Homo sapiens: one gene and its partner. The protein of the gene in region 2 interacts with the protein of the main gene of each other region in a pairwise test. Each region holds a gene or a part of one and is shown on either strand. Other genes may lie near its edges.

What was found. The genes of interacting proteins can lie anywhere in the genome.
Region 1: the proteins of GLE1 (region 2) and ODAD3 interact in binary tests that used the Homo sapiens proteins (3 or more experiments, as listed by UniProt).

What each region holds. Positions count from the first base shown.
Region 1 is NC_000019.10:11,428,539-11,432,187, reverse strand, and holds part of ODAD3 (outer dynein arm-docking complex subunit 3), read left to right. Parts: intron 1-1,167; coding exon 1,168-1,289; intron 1,290-1,411; coding exon 1,412-1,489; intron 1,490-3,649. UniProt on the Homo sapiens protein: Component of the outer dynein arm-docking complex (ODA-DC) that mediates outer dynein arms (ODA) binding onto the doublet microtubule. Involved in mediating assembly of both ODAs and their axonemal docking complex onto ciliary microtubules.
Region 2 is NC_000009.12:128,535,681-128,539,329, forward strand, and holds part of GLE1 (mRNA export factor GLE1), read left to right. Parts: intron 1-674; coding exon 675-804; intron 805-1,146; exon of another isoform or gene 1,147-1,275; intron 1,276-2,305; coding exon 2,306-2,410; intron 2,411-3,649. UniProt on the Homo sapiens protein: Required for the export of mRNAs containing poly(A) tails from the nucleus into the cytoplasm. May be involved in the terminal step of the mRNA transport through the nuclear pore complex (NPC).

The DNA of each region.
Region 1 (3,649 bases), on a different chromosome or scaffold from region 2:
AGGTTCCACAGGGCTGACTGTGGGACTTGAGTATGGAAGGATTTTGGGGTTTTTTGTTTTGTTTTGTTTTGTTTTTTGAGACAGAGTCTTGCTCTGTTGCCCAGGCTGGAGTGCAGTGGCAGGATCTCAGCTCAATGCAACCTCCACCTCCAGAGGTCAAGTAATTATTGTGCCTCAGCCTCCTGTAGCTGGGATTACAGGCACCCACCATCATGCCCGGCTAATTTTTTTTTTTTTTTTTTTTTGAGGCAGAGTCTCGCTCTGTCACCCAGGCTGGAGTGCAGTGGTGCGATCTCGGCTCACTGCAAGCTCTGCCTCCCAGGTTCACACCATTCTCCTGCCTCAGTCCCCTGAGTAGCTGGGACTACAGGTGCCTGCCACCATGCACGGCTAATTTTTTTTTTTTTTTGTATTTTTAGTAGAGGCGGGATTTCACTATGTTAGCCAGGATGGTCTCGATCTCCTGACCTCGTGATCCGCTCACTTTGGCCTCCCAAAGTGCTGGGATTATGGACGTGAGCCACCGTGCCCGGCCATGCCCAGCTAATTTTTGTATTTTTGTAGAGATGGGGTTTCACCATGTTGGCCAGGCTGATCTTGAACTCTTGACCTCAGGTGATCCGCCCGCCTCTACCTCCCAAAGTGCAAGGATTACAGGAACGAGCCATCATGCTCAGCCTCACACCTGGCTAATTTTTGTATTTTTAGTAGAGATGCGGTTTTACCATGTTGGCCAGGCTGGTCAACGACTGCATTCTTATAATATTAAGTTGATGAGCCTGGCACAGTGGCTCACACCTATAATCCTAGGACTTTAGGGGGCCTAGAACTTTGGGAACACCTGAGGTCAGGAGTTCGAGACCAGCCTGACCAACATGGAGAAACCCCATGTCTACTAAAAATACAAAATTAGCCAGGTGTGGTGGTACATGCCTGTAATCCCAGCTACTTGGGAGGCTGAAGCAGGAGAATCTCTTGAACCCGGGAGGCGGAGGCTGTGGTGAGCCGAGATTGCACCATTGCACTGCAGCCTGGGCAACAAGAGTGAAACTCCATCTCAAAAAAAAAAAAAAAGTTGATGATTGCAAAAAAGGTCTTTCCTCTGGGATGTTGCACCCATGCACCCACCCAGTAACTGTGTGTCTGTCCACCTCACCTGCCTGCCAGAGGGTGACCGGAAGGCTTTTTTTGAGAGCTCTCAGTGGAACATCAAGAAGAACCAGGAGACCATCAGTCAGCTCCGCAAGGAGACTAAGGCACTGGAACTAAAGCTGCTGGACCTGCTCAAGGTAAGGGGCAAAGGGGTGGGTGTAGGGTTCCCGTGGCGGTGGATGGTGGGGGACAAGTAGGTAGCACCTGGCCTTAGCTGGAGGTGGCATGCTGAAAGGTGACTGGACTTCCCTCCTTGCAGGGAGATGAGAAAGTGGTCCAGGCAGTGATTCGCGAATGGAAGTGGGAGAAGCCATACCTGAAGAACAGGACAGGACAGGTTTGCCCACCCTCGCCCCACCTCCTCCTTCATTTCCAGCCTGGGTCCCCTCACCACTGGACTCCAGGCTCACCCTCTCCAATCCTTCCTGCACACTAGCTGCCATTCATGTGCTCATTCAATTAAATCTTTATTACTCACTTTCCTTGTATCTGGCATCCTGGCATGGTAGTAAATGCAGTGAAAAAGCAGACCAAGTCTCCACTTCTAAAAACAGCTCATATCCTAATAGGGAAAACAAGTTAAAAAAAAAAACATCACAGCCAGGCGCGGTGGCCCACGTCTGTAATCACAGCACTTTGGGAGGCCAAGGCGGGCAGATGACCTGAAGTCGGGAGTTCAAGACCAACCTGACCAACATGGAGAAACCCTGTCTCTACTAAAAATACAAAACTTAGCTGGGCATGATGGCACGTGCCTGTAATCCCAGCTACTCGGGAGGCTGAGGCAGGAGAATCGCTTGAACCCGGGAGGCAGAGGTTGCAGTGAGCCGAGATTGTGCCATTACACTCCAGCCTGGGCAACAAGAGCGAAACTCCGTCTCAAAAAATAAATAAAATAAAAATAATTAAAAAAAATAAAACATTTTAAAAGTCATTGAACCCAAGAGGCAGAGGTTGTAGTAAGCTGAGGTTGTGCCACTGTGCTCCAGCCTGGGAGACAGAGTGAGACTCAGTCTCAAAACAAACAAACGAAAACAATGACCAGTGGCACATGCCTGTAATCCCAGCTATTCAGGAGGCTGAGGCTGGAGGATTGCATGAGCCTAGAAGTTTGAGACTATAATGAGCCACAATTGCACCACTGCACTCCAGCCTGAGTGACAGTACAACCTGTTTCTTTAAAAAAAAAAAAAAAAAAGGCTGGGCGCGGTGGCTCACGCCCGTAATCCCAGCACTTTGGGAAACCGAGGCGGGTGGATCACGAGGTCAGGAGATCGAGCCCATCCTGGCTAACACGGTGAAACCCCGTCTCTACTAAAAATACAAAAGGCCGGGCGCGGTGGCTCATGCCTGTAATCCCAGCACTTTGGGAGGCCGAGGTGGGTGGATCACAAGGTCAGGAGTTCTAGACCAGCCTGGCCAAGATGGTGAAACCCTGTTTTTACTAAAAATACAAAAATTAGCCAGGTGTGGTGGCAGGCACCTGTAATCCCAGCTACTCAGGAGGCTGAGGCACAGAATTGCTTGAACCCAAGAGGCAGAAGTTGCAGTGAGCTGAGATCGCACCACTGCACTCCAGTCTGGGCGACAGAGTGAGACTCTGTCTCAAAAATAAATACATAAATAAAAAATAAAATAAAAATAAAAATACAAAAAATTAGCCAGGCATGGTGGTGGGCGCCTGTAGTCCCAGCTACTCAGGAGTCTGAGGCAGGAGAACAGTTTGAACCCGGGAGGCGGAGCTTGCAGTGAGCTGAGACTGGTGCCACTGCACTCCAACCTGGGTGACAGAGCGAGACTCTGTCTCAAAAAAACAAAAACAAACAAACAAACAAAAACAAAAGATAAAAAATTAAAGGCCGGGCGCGGTGGCTCACGCCTGTAATCCCAGCACTTTGGGAGGCTGAGGCGGGCGGATCACCTGAGGTCGGGCGTTTGAGACCAGCCTGGCCAACATGGCGAAACCCCGTCTCTACTAAAAATACAAAAAATTAGCCGGGCATGGTGGTGCATGCTTGTAATCCCAGCTACTCAGGAGGCTGACGCAGGAGAATCCCTTGAACCCGGGAGGTGGAGGTTGCTGTGAGCCGAGATCATGCCATTGCACTCCAGCCTGGGCAACTCTGTCTCAAAATAAATAAATAAATAAATAAATAAATAAATAAATAAATAAAAAATAAAACACAGTCTAGGCATGGTGGCTCATGCCTTGTAATACCAGCACTTTGGGAGGCCAAGGCTGGAGGATCACTTGAGCCCAAGAGTTTGAGACCAGCCTGCCAACATAGTGAAACTTTGACTCTACAACAAATACAGAAGATTTGCCAAATGTGGTGGCACAGGATTGTAGTCCCAGCTACTTGCCAGGCTGAGGTGGGAGGATCACCTGAACTGGGGAGGTCGAGGCTGCAGTGAGTCATGTTCGTGCCACTGCACTCCCGTCCGGGTGACAAAGCAAGGCCTTGTCTGAAAAAATAATTATAAAAATTAAAAGGCT
Region 2 (3,649 bases):
GTGTGGTGGCAGGTGCCTTAATCACAGCTACTCGGGAGGCAGAGGCAGAAGAATCGCTTGAACCCGAGAGGCGGAGATTGCCTGAGATCGTGCTATTGCTTTCTAGCCTGGGCGACAAGATGGAAATTCCATCTCAAAAAAAAAAATTAGCCGGCTATGGTGGCATGTGCCTGTGGTCCTAGCTACTCAGGAGGCTGAGGCGGGAGGATCACTTGAACCTGGGTGGTGAAGTTTGCAGTGAGCCTTGATCATACCACTGTACTCCAGCCTGGGTGACAGAGACTCTGTTTCCCAAAAAAAAGCAATTTATCTCTAATTTGTCACCCTTATTTTGGCCTTGTCCCAGTGAATTTTTTCTTATTTCTTTTTTTTGAGACACAGTCTTACTGTTACCCAGGCTGGAGTGCAGTGATGCAATCTTGACTCACTGCAACCTCCACCTCCCAGGTTCAAGCAATTCTCATGCCTCAGCCTCCCAATTAGCTGGGACAAACAGGCATGCACCACCATACCCAGTTAATTTTTGTATTTTTAGTAGAGATGGGGTTTCACCACATTGGCCAGGCTAGTCTTGAACTCCTGGCCTCAAGTGATCTGCCCACCTTGGCCTCCCAAAGTGCTGGGATTACAAGCGTGAGCCACCACACCCGGCCAAATTTTTTCTTCCCGTATAGGATGCTTGGTTACCAAGTAAAGGATTCCAAAGTGGAGCAGCAAGACAACTTTCTAAAACGCATGTCAGGGATGATCCGTCTCTACGCTGCTATCATCCAGCTCCGGTGGCCATATGGAAACCGACAGGAGGTAGGTAAAAGAGGCTTACTGTCAATAATGAGAGGTTAGACCACAGTCCATGTGTATTCCTCCCACAGGAAATGTTGGCCTTCTTTCAGAGAGCCAGTCTAGTTAAAGGATAAACTATATGGCAGTTTCATGGGTATTATGTAGAGGACTGAATGTTGATTATTAGGGAACTTTCTTGGATCACCTGGTACTTTAAAGAGCTGGTTTTGTAACAGAGTCTACCAGAGGAGAGTCTGTTATAAATCAGTCATTAAGGTTAGAAGATTTTCTTACAAGAGGAATGAGCAAGAAATTGTCATCTTAGAACTAGTTGAGACCTTAGAAGCCATCTAGATCACATACCTTACTTCACAGATGGACAGAACAAGCTCAGAAAGCTGCAGCTGGGGTTCAGGGCTTTGACTTGCCAGCCCAATTAATTTCTCAGGGAATACAGATTAGAAGGACAGAGAAATTAATAGTTACGGAGACCTAAAGAGAAAAAATAGAAGTTGATTAAATCCAAGTTTTTATTGTATGCCTGCTGTGTCCCAGGTTCTGTGCTAAAGGTACCAAGAATAATAAATAAAATGTCAATAAGGCTAATTGTTACCCTATGGAATGCCTGAAACTGAAGCTGACACATGCATATTGAAGGGAGCCTATAAAGAATGTGTGGGAACCAATGTATTGAAACATTAAAAAATAGAAGGCGAGGTAGCTTCAGGCCTGATATCCCAGCACTTTGGGAGGCTGAGGTGGGTGGATCACCTAAGGTCAGGAGTTCAAGACCAGCCTGGCCAACATGGTGAAACCCCGTCTCTACTAAAAATACAAAAATTAGCTGGGCATGGTGGTGGGCACCTGTAATTCCAGCTACTTGGGAGGCTGAGGCACGAGAATCGCTTTAACCCAGGAGGCAGAGGTGGCAATGAGCCGAGATCACGCCATTGCACTCCAGCCTGGGCAACAAGAGCAAAACTCTCCCTCAAAAAAAAAAAAAAAAAAAAAAAAAGAATGTGTGGGAACCAATGTACTGAAACATTTAAATACAGAAGGCTGGGCGAGGTAGATTCATGCCTGTAATCCCAGCCCTTTAGGAAGCCGAGACAGGTGGGTCATTTGACTCCAGGAGTTTGAGACCAGCCTGGGCAACAAGGTGAAACCATGTCTCTAAATAAAATACAAAAAAATTAGCTGAGCACGGTGGCATGTGCATGCCTGTAGTCCCAGCTACTTGGGAGACTGAAGTGGAAGAATCACTTGAGCCCAGGAGGTGAAGGCTGCAGTGATCCATGATCGCACTATAGCACTCCAACCTGGACAACAAAGTGAGACCCTGTCTCAAAAAAATAAAAGAAAAACAGAATTTGTTTAGTTTGTGTTATTTCTGCCCTGTGGCAGGTGCTAGGGCTGGATGATCTGGGGTTCATTTCCACTTGGTAATGGCTGGATGATACACTGGGAGTTTAGATTTCTAAACAAAATGAGATCAATGATAACCAAGCTTCTCTACTCCCAGATTCACCCTCATGGCTTAAATCATGGATGGCGCTGGTTGGCACAGATCTTAAACATGGAGCCCTTGTCAGATGTGACAGCCACCCTCCTCTTTGACTTCCTGGAGGTACGTAACTCAGTTATCACACAAGAGAAGGCCAGTGGTTGAGGTAGCCTTGATCCACTGGGTGACATGAATGGGGAAACAGCATAGCATTTGGGCCTGATAGTAAAACAGCATGAGGTTCCAGTGTCATACATTTTTCCCAAGCTGTAGACCAACCTTGCTTTCACTTTTACTCCATACTATATTTACTTGGCTTCTCTGGATTTTTTTCATTATAAAGAACAGAAAATTGTACATTCTAGCAAAAGTGAAAAGAGGAATTTGTTTTAGGGATATAGAAGGGACTCCCAGGCCGGGTGCGGTGGATCACACCTGTAATCCCAGCACTTTGGGAGGCCAAGGTGGGCGGATGACATGGGGTCAGGAGTTCGAGCCCAGCTGGTCAGTATATTGAAACCCTGTCTGTACTAAAAATACAAATAAAGGCCGGGCACGGTGGCTCACGCCTGTAATCCCAGCACTTTGGGAGGCCGAGGTGGTTGGATTACCTGAAGTCATGAGTTCAAGACGAGCCTGTCCAACATGGTGAAACCCCGTCTCTACTAAAAATAAAAAATCAGCCGGGTGTGATGGTGCACACCTGTCATCCCAGCTACCGAGGAGGCTGAGGCAGGAGAATCGCTTGAACAGGATCTCACTCTGTCAGCCAGGCTGGAGTGCATTAGTGTGATCATAGCTCACTGTAGCCTCAAACTCTTGGGCTCAAGCGATCCTCCCACCTAACCCTGCCAAAGTGTTGAGATTACAGGAGTGAGCCATTGCACTCAGCCAAGAAGACACTTCTTATAGAAGAAAGCCTTGGGGTACATGCCATAACAAATCTGGAACCATTTGATCTATAGTGCCAATAGTTCCTAGTTACCTTAATAGCTCCTGACGTCAGCCAGGTGCAGTGGCTGACAGCCTTTGGGAGGCCAAGGCAGGCGGATCACTTGAGCTCTGGAGTTCAAGACCAGCCAGGGCAATATGGTGAAACCCTATATCTACCAAAAAAATACAAAAATTAGTGGTGTGTGCCTGTGGTCCCAGTTACTGAGGAGGCTGAGGTTGGAGGATCACCTGAGCCCAGGGAGGTTGAGGCTACAGTGAGCTGTGATCATGCCAGTGTCCTCTAGCCTGGGCGACAGAGTGAGACCCTATTTCAAAAAAAAATAAAAAGCTCCTGAAGTCACCATACATGAACAATGATCCTGTATCATTTGAGAACACAAGTGGTATTCTGTATACTCTCCTTACTAA